Homo sapiens: one gene and its partners. The protein of the gene in region 2 purifies or fractionates together with the protein of the main gene of each other region. This does not show direct contact. Each region holds a gene or a part of one and is shown on either strand. Other genes may lie near its edges.

What was found.
Region 1: the proteins of WWC1 (region 2) and PALS1 purify together in Homo sapiens (affinity purification with mass spectrometry; 2 studies listed by BioGRID and IntAct, with this or other methods). This does not show direct contact.
Region 3: the proteins of WWC1 (region 2) and AMOT purify together in Homo sapiens (affinity purification with mass spectrometry; 3 studies listed by BioGRID and IntAct, with this or other methods). This does not show direct contact.
Region 4: the proteins of WWC1 (region 2) and PRKCI purify together in Homo sapiens (affinity purification with mass spectrometry; 3 studies listed by BioGRID and IntAct, with this or other methods). This does not show direct contact.

The regions. Positions count from the first base shown.
Region 1 is NC_000014.9:67,314,435-67,317,934, forward strand, and holds part of PALS1 (protein PALS1), read left to right. Parts: intron 1-2,397; coding exon 2,398-2,469; intron 2,470-2,973; coding exon 2,974-3,045; intron 3,046-3,500. UniProt on the Homo sapiens protein: Plays a role in tight junction biogenesis and in the establishment of cell polarity in epithelial cells.
Region 2 is NC_000005.10:168,298,145-168,301,644, reverse strand, and holds part of WWC1 (protein KIBRA), read right to left. Parts: intron 1-3,500. UniProt on the Homo sapiens protein: Regulator of the Hippo signaling pathway, also known as the Salvador-Warts-Hippo (SWH) pathway.
Region 3 is NC_000023.11:112,816,832-112,820,331, forward strand, and holds part of AMOT (angiomotin), read right to left. Parts: intron 2,608-3,500; exon of another isoform or gene 2,494-2,607; intron 1-2,493.
Region 4 is NC_000003.12:170,302,424-170,306,477, reverse strand, and holds the end of PRKCI (protein kinase C iota type), read right to left. Parts: intron 3,439-4,054; coding exon 3,351-3,438; 3' UTR 501-3,350; downstream 1-500.

The DNA.
Region 1 (3,500 bases), on a different chromosome or scaffold from region 2:
ATTTTGTCTATATCAGTCATATTTTAAGGAAGGAGGAATGGACTTCTTACATTTATTTTAGAGTATGATGCTAAAACCCGTGATTCTTCAGAGTAACAGTTACAGGACATTTCTCTAGAATCTTGGAGTGTTGGGTAGCCATTGTGGTTCTGCCTCAGGCTTGTGCCAAATATCAGTATGGTGTCTTCCTACCATGCCGAACTTTAGCCCATAAATGTTTAGAACTAGTGTTTGTTGATAGATTGATTTTCTGAAAGTATATAGATTCCAATGATGACATTTCTAAGTCTTTTTATAAGACTAAAGATCTGCCTTAGAGTTTGACGATGGCTTTCCATCAGAATTAGACAGATTTTTTTAAGAGGTCATTATGAGGCTGGCCCTGGTGGCTCACACCTGTAATCCCAGCACTTTGGGAGGCTGAGGTGGGAGGATTGCTTGAGCCCAGGAGTTTGAGACTAGCCTGGGCCACATAGTGGCATAGCTGACATAATGAGACTTTGTCTCTACAAAAAATTTAAAAATTAGCTGGGCATGGTGGTGCGTACCTGTAGTCCCAGCTATTCAGGAGGCTGAGGTGGAAGGATTGCATGAGGCTGGAAGGTTGAGGCTGCAGTGAGCTTTGATCACACCAGTGTAACAGAGCAGTCTCAGAAAAAGAAAGAAAATCATTTCCATCTCTCATTAATTTCTGCCTCTATTTCAGAATAGCCTATAGTTCATACTACAAAAAGTGCCACAGAAGTACATCATTGTAATGTTTTACATTTTTAATATGTAAATGATTAAAATTACTTTGTTCTTGATTTTTAAAAATCGGTTACTTATTTTTAATTTTTTTTTTTTTTTTTTTTTTTTTTGAGACAAAATCTCGCTCTGTCTCCCAGGCTGGAGTGCAGTGGCATGATCTCAGCTCACTGCAAGCTCCGCCTCCCGGGCTCATGCCCTTCTTCTCTCTCAGTCTGCTGAGCAGCTGGGACTACAGGTGCCCACCACCACGCCCAGCTGATGTTTTGTATTTTTAGTAGAGATGGGGTTTCACCGTGTTAGCCAGGATGGTCTTGATCTCCTGACCTCGTGATCTGCCCACCTTGGCCTCTCAAAGTGTTGGGATTACAGGCATAAGCCACTGCACCCGACCCCTTTAAATTTTAATACTCTTAAAATTTTCCTTCTAGTAATAGTTACTTGTACTAAGAATACAGTCTTGGCCGTGCACAGTGGCTCATGCCCCTAATCCTGGCACTTTGGGAGGCCAAGCAGGAGGATCACCTGAGATTAGGAGTTTAAGACCAGCCTGGCCAACATGGTGAAACCGAGCCTCTACTAAAAATACAACCATTAGCTGGGCATGGTGGCGGGCCCCTGTAATCCCAGCTGCTCGGGAGGCTGAGGCATGCGAATCCCTTGAACCTGGAAGGCGGAGGTTGCGGTGAGCCAAGATTGCGCCACTGCACTCCAGCCTGGGTGACAGAGCGAGACTTCGTCTCAAAAGATAACCAGGCTTCCTTTAATGCTTCTTATGTGTATGGAAGTCAGTATTAATCTTTTTGTTAGTACACTTACGAAATGCACTAAGTTCTACAGATTATCCCCACCTATGTAGAATTTGCTTATTGATTTTTAAGAATCTCTGGCTTTACACTGAAAAAAAGTAGATTTAAAAATAAAATAAAAAAGTGGAACCTCAACGTAATTCAGAATCTTCTAAGTGAAGCCACTTGTATCCTATAGGAAAAGACATATTTGATTTAAAGTAGAAGTCGGAAAAGAAAACCTCTTTCAAGGTCAGGAACCTTGAAAGCCTCCTATATTAAAATATTAATTTTGTAAGGAAAAGCACGTTTTCCATTTATATAATTGGTAACTTAAGGGTGGAAATAAAAAATGGCTAACACATATACATACACAAAAGAAGAGGAATTGAGAATAATGCATGCAAGGGAATATACTGAATGGTTTCTTGGAATTGAATATGGAATTGAATATGTGATGAATGCGCACATGTTGTTTTGGAAAAGTTAATTCCTAGAATTGATATCCTTAATTTGAGATAATTCTAAAGGACCTAGAACCATTGTAAGATCCAGGATAGTACTTTTCCACAAAGTAAATGCTCAATGAAACCTTTTAAAAAGTTGAACTATTAAATTTTTAAATATTTTAGTAGATGATATGTATTCTAATAATACATATGGGATTGATTGAGCAGAGTTAATATTTTAAAAATTTGGAGGCTTACACATCATAGCTGACATTACTCCTGTGTTGGCAAAAGGATTTGGAAGGGAATATAAGTGAAGAGATATGTCTAGTGTTTTCCCTTCTTGATTAAAAAAAAAATTCTTATCCTTTTATCTTAAATATTTTACCCTTCTTTTTCTTTCTGCTATTAAGGGAAAAGCTTTCAGCAGCAAAGGGAAGCCATGAAACAAACCATAGAAGAAGATAAGGAGCCAGAAAAATCAGGTTAGACACTTGTATTTGACATAAGTAAATGGTTTCTTGGGTCTTCATCTGGAGCCATGTGTGAATCTGCATATTAGAACCGTGAAGAAGTACTCAGGGAAAGAGTGATACAAGAGGCAAAACTGATTATCTCAGAACTGTAAAGAAAGGATAAGATTTAAGTATTAAAGATTATCTGTCTATACTGTGTAGTTAATTGAAAATTGTAAATGCTTTCCTGAAAAATAGTCTTTATACAAACAGTGTAATAAGTATTTATAAAAGTAAATTAAAAACAAGCTGGGTGTGGTGGTTTGCACCTGTAATCCCAGCACTTTGGGAGACTGAGGCGGGAGGATCACTTGAGGCCAGGAGTTCAAGACAAGCGTGGCCAACATATGGAGATCTCGTTTCTGCAAAAAAATTTAAAGAATAAATGAATGAATAAATAGAGTTCTTCAATTTGAGTTATGTGGTTTTGTTCACGGGAACACATTTATAGTTATGTTTATGATTGCTCAACAGGAAAACTGTGGTGTGCAAAGAAGAATAAAAAGAAGAGGAAAAAGGTTTTATATAATGCCAATAAAAATGATGGTAAGTTCTACTCTCAGGGATAGGTGGAATTATATCTGAAAGGAGTCTAAACCTAGTCCTGTTTTGCACCTTAATGTTAAATATGTGCTTGAGAAAATCATTTAGTAGAAAGTATTTTCTTTTGGAATCCTGTGAGTAAGGCAGTGTTTTGAATTCTGGGGAAAACTGATACAAAAATTCAAGTACTATTTAGCATATGTAGTATTAAATTGACAGTTTCCTGTAGTTTTTTTCTACTTAAACTCTTTGCAAAAATTATACTTCTAACAAATTCTTACAGAACATACTTGAAGTAAAAACTATGTCCTCTACAATAGCTCATGTCACAGAAGCAACTCATTCCTGAGAACCCACTACCTGCTGGCTAAGTCAGACACACAAGAGAATTTTAGTTTTATTTTGATTGATTGCTAAGATTAAAAAGCTCGAAAGTTGTAGCTTCTCTTAAAATCAAA
Region 2 (3,500 bases):
TTTTTTGAGACGAAGTTTTGCTCTTGTTGCCCAGGCTGGAGTGCAATAGCACAATCTCGACTCACTGCAACCTCCGTCTCCCAGGTTCAAGCGACTCTCCTGCCTCAGCCTCCCGAGTAGCTGGGATTACAGGCGCCTGCTACCACGCCTGGCTAATTTTTTTGTATATTTAGTAGAGATGGTGTTTCACCATGTTGACCAGGGTGGTCTTGAACTTCTGACCTCAGGTGATCCACCCACCTTGGCCTCCCAAAGTGCTGGAATTACAGGTGTCAGCCACTGCACCCAGTCCCACTTACTATTTTAAAGTGACAAAGCCAGACTTGACTCAGTGTCCTCTAATGATCTTTATGGAGAGCTTATCTACTACAGGGAATCGTGAATCGTGTGGTATGCAATCCCATGTTTGGGTGGAACAACAAACACATACACATTTTTTTCCATAGTGGAAAAATGAGCTTGTCACTTGACTTGTCTCTCGGCCTCAGTTTCCTCATTTGCAAAATGCCATAAAAATATGATGAGCAATAGTGTTTGGCACGTGACAGACAATGGATAAGGATCTTTAAAGACAATCATGATTATTTATCACCATTATCACCAGGTGCCAGTTATTGTTCTCACTGTTAGTGATACAAAGACAAACAATGCACTTAGAAGAAATTCCTGGAATACAGTGAAATGCTCACAGCCCGACTCTCCAAGAAAAGCCACGACAGATGTAGGACTGGAAGGCTGTCCCAGGGTCATCTCATCCTAGCAGCCACCTGATGCCTGCATCTTGACATTTTATCCTTCCAAGTCTGTTACCCGTCAGTGGATCCCAGGGGCTACCCCAGGGACGAATCCAACAAGTAACCACCACTGGGCGGGGAGGAAGCCAGTGTGGGGGTTGCTACCAAAACAGGCCTGGGCAACAGCAGGCAGCCGACTGGGGAAAGTCAGCAGCTGCAGTTGGCCTGGTGTCCTCGCTGCCAGAGAGTGATGAATGGAGCAAGAGAAGAAAAAAAAAGCCAACAAAGGTGTCCCTAATCTTGATGCAGCTTCATTTTTTTTTTTTTTTCTGGCTGACCATTGAGTGAGAACTTAAGCCTCCGTCCCTTTTCTTTGGCAGACATTTGAAACTGAAAGATCTCATTTCTTCCCAACAGTGAGATGTCATGGGTAGAAGCATTGAGCAGGCAACTGGCAAGGGGTGGGGGGTGGGGAGAATGGGCATGTGACCCACCACACTTGTCCTTTTTCTTTCCCTCCTCCCCACTCTCTGCTCCACCCCCTCTTCCCCATCCTGCATCTTTAGAGAATATTCTCCGCACACAACAGTGAACGCCTGCCCCCTCCTCCCGCCACCCCATTATTATTTTTCTGCTCAGGAACTAAAGGCTAAATGGCCTGCTGGGGAAGGTCTAATAACAAAATGTCACTGTATCCAGTTTCTTAGTTTTCTCTTTCTTTATCTCACTCTGAAACGGATTCGAGGCAGCAGCAACTGAACCTTTGCTGTTCTACCTAAAGGTGTGCAGCCAGCTGGCCATCTCCATGCTGGGAGAGGCAAGACGGGAGTTTTTTGCCCAGATCTAGCCCTCAGCCCTGTCCAAGTGGAGGTGCTTCCCTTAGCAAATAGCGAGGAGCTGGTGATAGGGATGTCACCAGGCCACTTCTCCAAGTGAAGTGGATTCCTCTTATCCAGGGCCCCTTGCTGAACTGGAGGCTGCAGAGCCTCATCACCTAGCACCACATGTGGCTGGAGAGAGCTCCTGATACACGTCATGGACAGCCACCTGACATTAGGTCGGCATTCCCTGCAAGTGCCACTGAAGCCTGATCAAGGCTTCTGCCACTGAGGGAACCGTGCAGCAAGACGGTGGCCACCTTCGACTCACACTTATTCTAGCCCTGTTTCTCCTTACGTGCACCTGAACTTGGCGTGCCAACCTTCCAGGTAACTAAGGCAACCTGATTCTCTTCCCTTCAAAAGGGCAGTGTTCTTCTCACAGCAATCTGGGACCCCAGGGAATTGGAAAATTGGGTCAGTTTGGATAAGCCCTCTCCCCGGGAGGGGGAGGGATGGCGACAGAGAGGAACGGCCTTGGCTACTCATTCCCTGGCTGTTGGGAGCATTTACCCAAGCGACTTGGAAAGGACTGTGAACTCCTTGTACACACTGCATCCTTCAAAGAGTCCCTCTGCCTCCATCTCTCTCTCTTCTCCCATCCCCAAAGCTCTGGTTAGCCAGCTGCTCCCAGAAGGTGGAGTTTATGCCAAACAGTCTCCTAAGCTGCCATGAGGATCTCACTGGCTTCTCTGGTTAAGGCTCCTTAGCAAAGTCTCTCCCTGAGATCCACATCAGGTTCACCCATTTTAAGAATAAATGGTAACTCTCAAGCCCAGCTGTCAACAGGGCACTCTGGGGCCCTGAGATGGATTAATAAGCCAGGACAGAGCCAGACCAGGCTACAGCTAGTATGAGTGTAGATGCAAGAATCCAGCTAGGTGGGCTCCAGTCCTGGATGCAACACCTGTTGGTGATCTTGAGCAAGTTACTAAACCTTTTTTTTTGAGATGGCGTTTCGCCCTTGTTGCCCAGGCTAGAGTGCAGAGGCGCGATCTCAGCTCACTGCAACCTCCGCCTCCTGGGTTCAAGCGATTCTCCTGTCTCAGCCTCCTGAGTAGCTGGGATTACAGGTGCGTGCCACCACACCTGGCTAATATTTTGCATTTTTAGTAGAGACGTGGTTTCACCATGTTGGCCAGGCTGGTCTTGAACTCCTGACCTCAGGTGATCCACCCACCTCGACCTCCCAAAGTGCTGAAATTACAGGAGTGAGCCACTGCGCCCGGCCGGTTACTTAACCTTTCTAAATTTCAGTTCCCTCATCTGAAGTACTTACCCCATATGGCTGTTGAAAAGATAAAATGAGGTCACAAAATAGAATGCTTAGCTCAGTGGGCAGCAGAGAGTAAACACTCAATAGATGCTGGTATTGACTATTATTTTATTCTTCTCTGGGTTACCAAATCTCTTGCTTCTCCCTATTATCTATCCTAGTGTTTTTAAACCTCATTTCTTTCTTAATAATTGACATAGGATGTTCCCAGGCATGGTAGACTCCCATGGAATACGTAGATCTTAAACTCAAGCCTCAGAAAAAGATAAAAAGCCCTCTAATCACTTGTATGTAAGTATTATTATTATACATCTACAGGTATTAGTGGATCATTAAGAGCAGCAGCATGGAGAATAAAGAGGTTCTGGGTAACTTCCCTGGCAGACTGGTTATAACTCTCACTTAAGAAACCTTGTTGGGTGGGGCACAGTGGCTCACACCTGTAATCCTAACACTTTGGGAGGCTGAGGCAGGCGGATAACTTGAGGTCAGGAGTTCGAGACCAGCCTGGCCAACATGGTGAATCCCTGTCTCTACTAAAAATACAAAAATTAGCTGGGTGAGGTGGCATGCACCTGTAATCCCAGCTACTCGGGAGGCTGAGGCACGAGA
Region 3 (3,500 bases), on a different chromosome or scaffold from region 2:
GGTACATTGTTTAATGTGGCTCTCCCATTTTTGTACCTAATTACCAGGTACAAAATGCTAACACCTAAGTATAAATAATTCATACCTAATGACTATTAGCCATTAAGGGAAACAATTAGTATGTGGATGGATCACTTCCACCATCACCACTACCAGGAATAGTATCTGTCAGTGTGCACTGAAGACAAAAAGCTTGTTCATGCCCTAGCTCATGCCCAATTAACCTCATATGCTCCCATGTCCTGTGGACACTTGTTCTACAGTTGATATTTCTCAATCCAGGGAAGACAGATGGCTAAGTGCATGGGATCTGGATCCCAACAGAGGGAGTCTGGAGACCTCTTCTACTGCTCACGAGCTGTGTAACTTGGTGCAAGTTACTTAATCTGCATGAGCCCATTTTATTCTTGAGGTCACAAATAAATTGCAAAAATACTGGGGTCTTCTCATTTTTGGCGGAATAGGAATTACAGTCACTTCTCTACCTCCCAGTGAGATAAGCTGACCTTGTTAGCTTGTTACTTAAAGGATATCCATTTAATCTTTGCAATAAATTGCATAAAATTCATGGTGGAACTGGGACAAATCACCAGGAGCAATTAACTTTTAACTGGCATTCCAGATGCTAAAGCACATTCCTCAGACACACACTCCAGTTACCATTACTGTTCATGTATCCATCTTTACAAGAGATCTTAACTATAAGGGCTTTTTACAGCTACAAAATCATTCCAAACACTTTCTCATGGATACCCAATAACCTACATCTTCCCCAAGAGTCCTCAAACCTGTACAAACCCTGGATTCTGTCGCTCAGGCCCATCTATGCCTCTGGTGTACCCACATTCTTCCAATCACATACATCTGTCATTATAAATAATTGCTGAATATTGAAGAGGGCATGCGAACTATTTGGGCAAAGAAGAATTGACATGGTACTCATAAGTACAACTGGAAAGTTGCTGCCATACATAATATTTTTCCCCAGAGCTCAAAGCACTCATTCAATCAAAAGCCTGGGAGTTATTTATACATTTATTTGGTGAAGAGCTCCTATTTTCCATTCTATGGATCTTCAGTTTCCTCACAGGTAAAAGACTAAGTGCTCTTTTTTCTCTTTGAATGAGAGCTATTACAATTTCTACATGCCTACAGAGTTAAAATATAATGTCCTGAGATTTGTTGGGGCTTGTGTGTCTCTTTTCTGCTTTGTGGGCAGAAAAGAGGGGCTTAAGTTTCATGTTCTCCAATGCAGCTCTCAAATTTTAAGGGAAAAAAATCACTATATTAACCTTCATTTTTGTTCCCAGGATTTGCAGTCCAAGGCCTGGGAGGTATTCTCTTTTAAAGACTGAACGCCCAGTTCTGAAATGGGCTTTCTCTCCACAGCTCCCCTGGGCCTCATCAAGCAACCCAGGCCTCTCTCTCAAACAAACTCAGCCACTGGCCTCCCTCCTGCCTGGAGACTGAAAGGCCCCTGCATTCCCTGGACAACAGCACATGGCCTTCCAGGGACCTTGGGAAGGAGGAGACCATGAGGTCTCCAGAAGGAGGTCTCTGGGGTCAGATAAGCTGAGGATGAAGATAAGCAGAGACAAGGCAGCTGCCCCTCAATTCCCCAGGCTGGAAAAGGAAGCAGATCTCAGTGCACCGTGATGTTGGGAAAACCAAGGCAGCCCGTCACTGGCTGGTTTGCAAACCAGCAATGGCTTGGGCAGTCACAAAGGGAGAGAAAGCCCTTCAGTGAAGAACTCAATCTGGGCTCCAGCATCCACCCACCAGGGGAAAGCAGGACGGAATGAACACTGGGGTGAAGCTCCCCGTGAGAAAAAGAGATTAAGGAATGACGGGGTAAGGGAGAGTTGGAGGGGGCGGATGTCAGAGGAAGCCAAAATACACCCCAAGTTAAATAATAACAGTAAAAGTAATGACAGTAATAATAAAGGTGGCAGCCATGTGAGCAGCACACTCTCCAGGTCCTTCCAGCACACAGCAGCCTGAATCGCTCCCCACTGACACGTTAACCAGGAACAACAAGCCGCCTGCAGACAACAGAATCACATGATTCCATGCAAGCCCTGACCTGCCTCCTGCCACTTCCGTCCCCTCATCCTGCTCCTTCCTAAGGCTACCTGGGCCACTGGGGCTCTGCAGAAAAGGGGACATAGCATACATGCAGGACAAAGGCCAGTGACTAAAATCAGGATCCTCCCCAAAGCTGGGAAGTGGGGTAGGGTGGGGGGTACACTCCTCCCAGAGACAGTAGTAAGGACTCAAAGGGAAAGTAAAAGCCACTCTACCCAGCTGACACAGCACCTTCCACCCTGCCACCTCGATGACTGGGAGCCCTCACCCTCCCCAGCCACACACACATGCACACATGTGCATGCACACACACACTCCACACTCCTGGCACACACATGTGCAATCCTGCACACACACTCTCACCAGAGCAGGTGCCACCCAATAGCCTGGAACTTGATTGATCCTCACCACAGAAACTGCCTTTCCCAGGCTCTGCAATGGTGAATCGGTGAATCTGTGAATCCTGGAGCAGGCTGCAAATTCCTGATGGTTTCTCTTGCACAACCAGCTCTGCTCTGAACTACAGAGTTAGGTCACCCTTAGATTCCACTAAACAAGGATTTCAAGAAACCTCAGATCTGGGCATGATTTCAACAATTGAAAGGAGGTGGCTGCTTTATAAACAGAAATGATTTAATTTTTAAAAGCAGTTGATAAATGTATAAACCCAGGATGCAGAAAAGGTTCAGCACTTAGAAAGACAAAGATTCTGAAATTTTAAAATTATTCAGATAGCCTTTGCCTTGTTTCTCATCTGGGGTTCTGGGCATTCAAGGTATTTATTTTTTAAGGGGAGGAGGGCATAAGAAAGATGAAGTAATAAAAGGATTGTTTATAATTTTGTTCATTTTAACAGCAAATCTCCAGCAGTTCACTGCACCTCGAAAAGCAAGCAAATGTTTTCTTAACAGCAATTTGTTCAAAGAGTTTGCTTTGCATCCTGACTTGTAATTTGTGGATTAAGGGCTCAGAATGTAGTCTTCTAATTGGTTGCTGCTAGCAGCAGTTACTTGGAAAGGTACTCACAAACTGTATAGCTAGTTGGTTAAAGGAAATAAAGGAGGGAAAATGTGTCACCACCTTAAAGCAGTACACTTCTGGAAAGCAGTTCAACTACCTCCTTTTGCCAGTAATTTGTCAATAGGTGCCACTCCCTCATGTAGGGCCCTGCAACAATTTTACGGCCAGTATTTGCCTGATGCAGACCCAAATTTCATATGGAGCATCCTCCCACTAGGGCCATTTTAGGTTTGCTTATTCATCAAGCATTATCAAGCACTCTGCTCCTTTCCCATAGAGAAAAACCTGTTACAGCAAAACTGTGTATTAAAATGCTGCTCAACAAGGGTAGATCATCATGGGCTCTGTTGCTTTTGAGGACAGAAAGAAAGAGAAATCCACAGATAACTTAGGTG
Region 4 (4,054 bases), on a different chromosome or scaffold from region 2:
ATTCCTAATTTTTAATAATATCTACATTAATAAATATAACATTAAATATTTTTTGAGAGACAGGGTCTCACTTTGTTGCCCAAGCTGGAGTGCAGTGGCATGATCATAGTTCACTGCAGCCACAACCTCCTGGGCTCAAGCAGTCTTCCCACCTCAGCCTCCTGGGACTATAGGCACTTTGCCGGCATGCCTGGCTAATTTCTTATTTTTCTGTATGTAGAGATGGGGTCTCACTATATTGCCCAGGCTGAACTCAAACTCCTAGGGTCAAGTGATCCTCCCACCTCAGTCTCCCAAAGTGCTGTGTGAGCCACTATGTCCAGCTAAATGTAACATTATTAAATGTAAATACGACAGCATCAGTTCTACCAGAATGGTGCTTTAAGTACAGCAAAATTCCAAACTCTGAAATTTTCACTTTTTCTTGAACAAATTTTGATGCATCTTTGTTCTTATACAAATTTCTGACATACTACATATGAAAAATGATCCACTCTCAATGGGTATTATACATTTTATTTAAAGACTTCAAAGTAAAAAAAAAAAAAAAAGGTACAGAAATAGATTACATTATGATGACCACAGTAGTATTCTACATGACAAAAATAAAAACAGATTTAAGTAAATGTACCGGCACTGAACAAGCATTTACTTAACATCCAATCCAGGCTGCATATGCACAAAATGATCTGACCACATGCTTATGCAAAATAAAGTTTTTCTTAGAAAGCCAAAATTCCAACCATTCTGACTGTCCGCTGCCTATTCCCCTGTTGAGTATTTTGAGCGAACTTCTATAGAATATAAGAACAATTGGCATGGCACTTAAAGACTGCAAAAAACAGAACACAATTAAAAACATTTATAATGCATTTCTGTATAAAATACACACCGTAAATCTTATTAGTTAAAAAAAGATTTAAAAACAAAAGACCACCCTGAATAATGGTTAAAACCTCATCATAGAAAAATGCTCATCATTTTGTACACTGAAAGAAACTACTGAGAGGTTTTTTGGGGGGCTGGTGGGAAGGTAGATACCTAACTTAAAGATTCATTCAAAATTTGCTTTAAATTGTGGGTAATAACTCACTGCTTACCCCTTCTCAAAATGTTTTATCATGAATACTCTAATATTTAACCACAGGACAAACATAAAGAATAACCTGAAGAAGGTATTTCTCAAAGTGAGGTCGAAGGCCCCAAAAGAAGTCTAAGGTGGGCTCACTAGTGTGCATTTTAAACCAACTTCCTAGGTGATTATTTCACATTCCAAAATCTGAGAACTAATGCCCTATGGGAAACAGCACCACTTAAAAGCAAGGCCATAAACATATTTCTGACATGAGATACAGAATTCTAAGTTTATGATTTGAAGTGAATACTGCTTTTTGTTTTAAAACAAGTTTCAGGTGTTAAGAGAAACATATTAAATAAACATGTGGATGTATATAAACATTTTCCTTTGACGTTTTCATTGCTTTCAGACTTATGTTATTTGAAGGAAAGAGAGTATATAGCTAGAAACTTTGGAAAAATGACATTTCCAATGAAATGCAGCATCCACCCCTCCAAAAAAAGATAATTTATTAAATGCCTACAAATTTTAAAACATTTGAAATTTAAACTAGATAACTTTCCTAAAATTTTTACTAAGATTAAAAAATTTTAAGTAATTTAGATAATCATGTTTACTTTTTAAGTCCCTTTTCATTAAAAATATATTTAAAATAAACAACAGAAGGATGCTATATTTGGCACCCCTTTAAATAATAAGCTGCTGAACACTAATATCCATAAAAAATAATCCGAGGAACTCTGCCTCTGAAATGTATTCTACTATGTATTACATGTGTTATCTAGTTAATAAAAACTCACTGAAAGAGCTGATACTGTGATGTGTGTGAGTGTATGTGTGTGTCCTGAACATTTATTCATGCCTACTTTATTTTTCTGATTTCACTAAAGGGTCCAATCATATAGATAATGTGGTTTAGGGGAAGAAATGAGCATAATTAAGATACCCTACTTAAAAAATAAATACTTTTCCTGTATGCTAAATTATAAGGAAAAAATATTATACATTCTGCCTCCACTGAATACATGGAATGCTTTTACAAGTTTGGTAACAATAATGAGTGCCTCATTTGAATCAAGTCACAAAAAGCAACTGTGGGGATTCACTCTCCAATAGGAAATAAAAATATTACCAGTGTACTTTTCTGTATCTATTTTAAATTTCTGGTTTTTTTCCTTTCTATACACTGAGTAATTTTCCATTCAACTGCATCCTTGGTCTTTTGCAGTGTATATATTAACACTGCAGTTAAAGTTTCCAATAAAGGGAAAGGCTCAGGAGCTACCCTGTTAATATACTTAAAAAGAAAAACCACTTGTGCCAGTTTTGCAAAAATAGTTAATGATTTGGAATCTGATTCATAATAAAAAGTGTCTTTTTTAACTCAAGAAGAATTTCCCAATTTGGTTTTTGTTTGAGACCGAGTCTCACTCACTGTTGCCCAGGCTAATCTTGGCTCACTGCCAACTCCATCTCCTGGGTTCAAGCGATTCTCCTGTTTCAGCCTCCCGAGTAGCTGGGATTACAGGTATGTGCCACCATGCCCAGCTAATTTTTGTATTTTTAGTAGAGACAGGATTTCACCATGTTGACCAGGCCAATCTCAAACTCCTGACCTCAAGTGATCTGCCCGCCTCAACCTCCCAAAGTACTGGGATCACAGGCATTGAGTCACTGCACCCAGCCGAATTTCCCAATTCTAAGCAAGCAGCATCTTCTATTACCAATTTAATAACTGCTGCCTTAAAAAAGATCAATAATTTATTTATCCAAGGCAATAAAATTTACACCTGAATTTTTAAACATAAAGAACTCCAAAACTAATAGGTAATATAAAAAGTTGTTGCATTTTATATTAATCTTTTATTTCAAAATTAAACCCTGAAATGATTTAACACAGAATGACAAAAATTATGGGAGGTTTATGATGTAATCCCACTATGTGCCTTAATGCAACAGATACTTTTTTAATGCAGTGTTTTTTTTTTTTTTAAACAAAAAAGATAACTTCATTACTCATCTGTAGGCCTTTTAAAAACTGAAAAACCAGTTCAACTAAATTTTGACATGATTGTCTGGAAGCTAGTAGTATTAATTTTTTTTTCATAGTAAAACAGATGTAATAATTGATTCATATAGTCTACAAGAGAAGATATTGGGTGTTTTTTTGTAGGTGGCAAATATAAAATGGTTAATTGTATCCAGGCTTGCAGCAAGTTTATCCATGCATTAAATGGCAACATGAGTAGAATACATGGTTGAAAAATGAGGATCAGACACATTCTTCTGCAGACATCAAAAGAGGATTGATATACTCAAAACCTTCAAATTCAGACTGATCAATCTTCCTCACAATGTCACTGTTGAAAGAAAAATAAATTTATTTTCATCATAATCAAGATTTCTTCAACCTTTAAATGGTAAAATAAGATTAAAAATCAAGTAATTAGGCTAATTGTACTGAAAGGAAATCTATAAATTTTTAGATTAATCCCCCAGATTTTCTAGACGAATCAAGAATGGAGTACTGAAAATTTAAAAAACCCCGATAATCCCACAAGCAAGTTTAGAGCCAAAAAGGAGTTCAAAACTGAGGACTGCGAATAAAAAAGACACCAGTTGTCACCATTCCAGTTAATCTTAACTTTTGACCAGAACAACATTCCTAGTTACAGGTGAACATCCAGGTTTGAATTAGCATTCAATTTAGTAGTCACCTCAACAGCCAGATGTTAGATAGTGTAGCCCAGAAGAAGTTAGCCAAAAGGAAAAGGCAATAGGAACAAGTACACTGAGAGACCTGGAATGAGGAGAGAACACCGCAGGGAGATCATGGGTCACAGAGAGGGGAGAGGTTGGCATTTTGTTACACTGGGCTTCTACTTTAATATACAGTGAGTAGTGCTATCAAATATTTAATACATAAATGTATTATGCCATACTAAGAAGCACAAAGTTACAGAGGATACAGTCCCT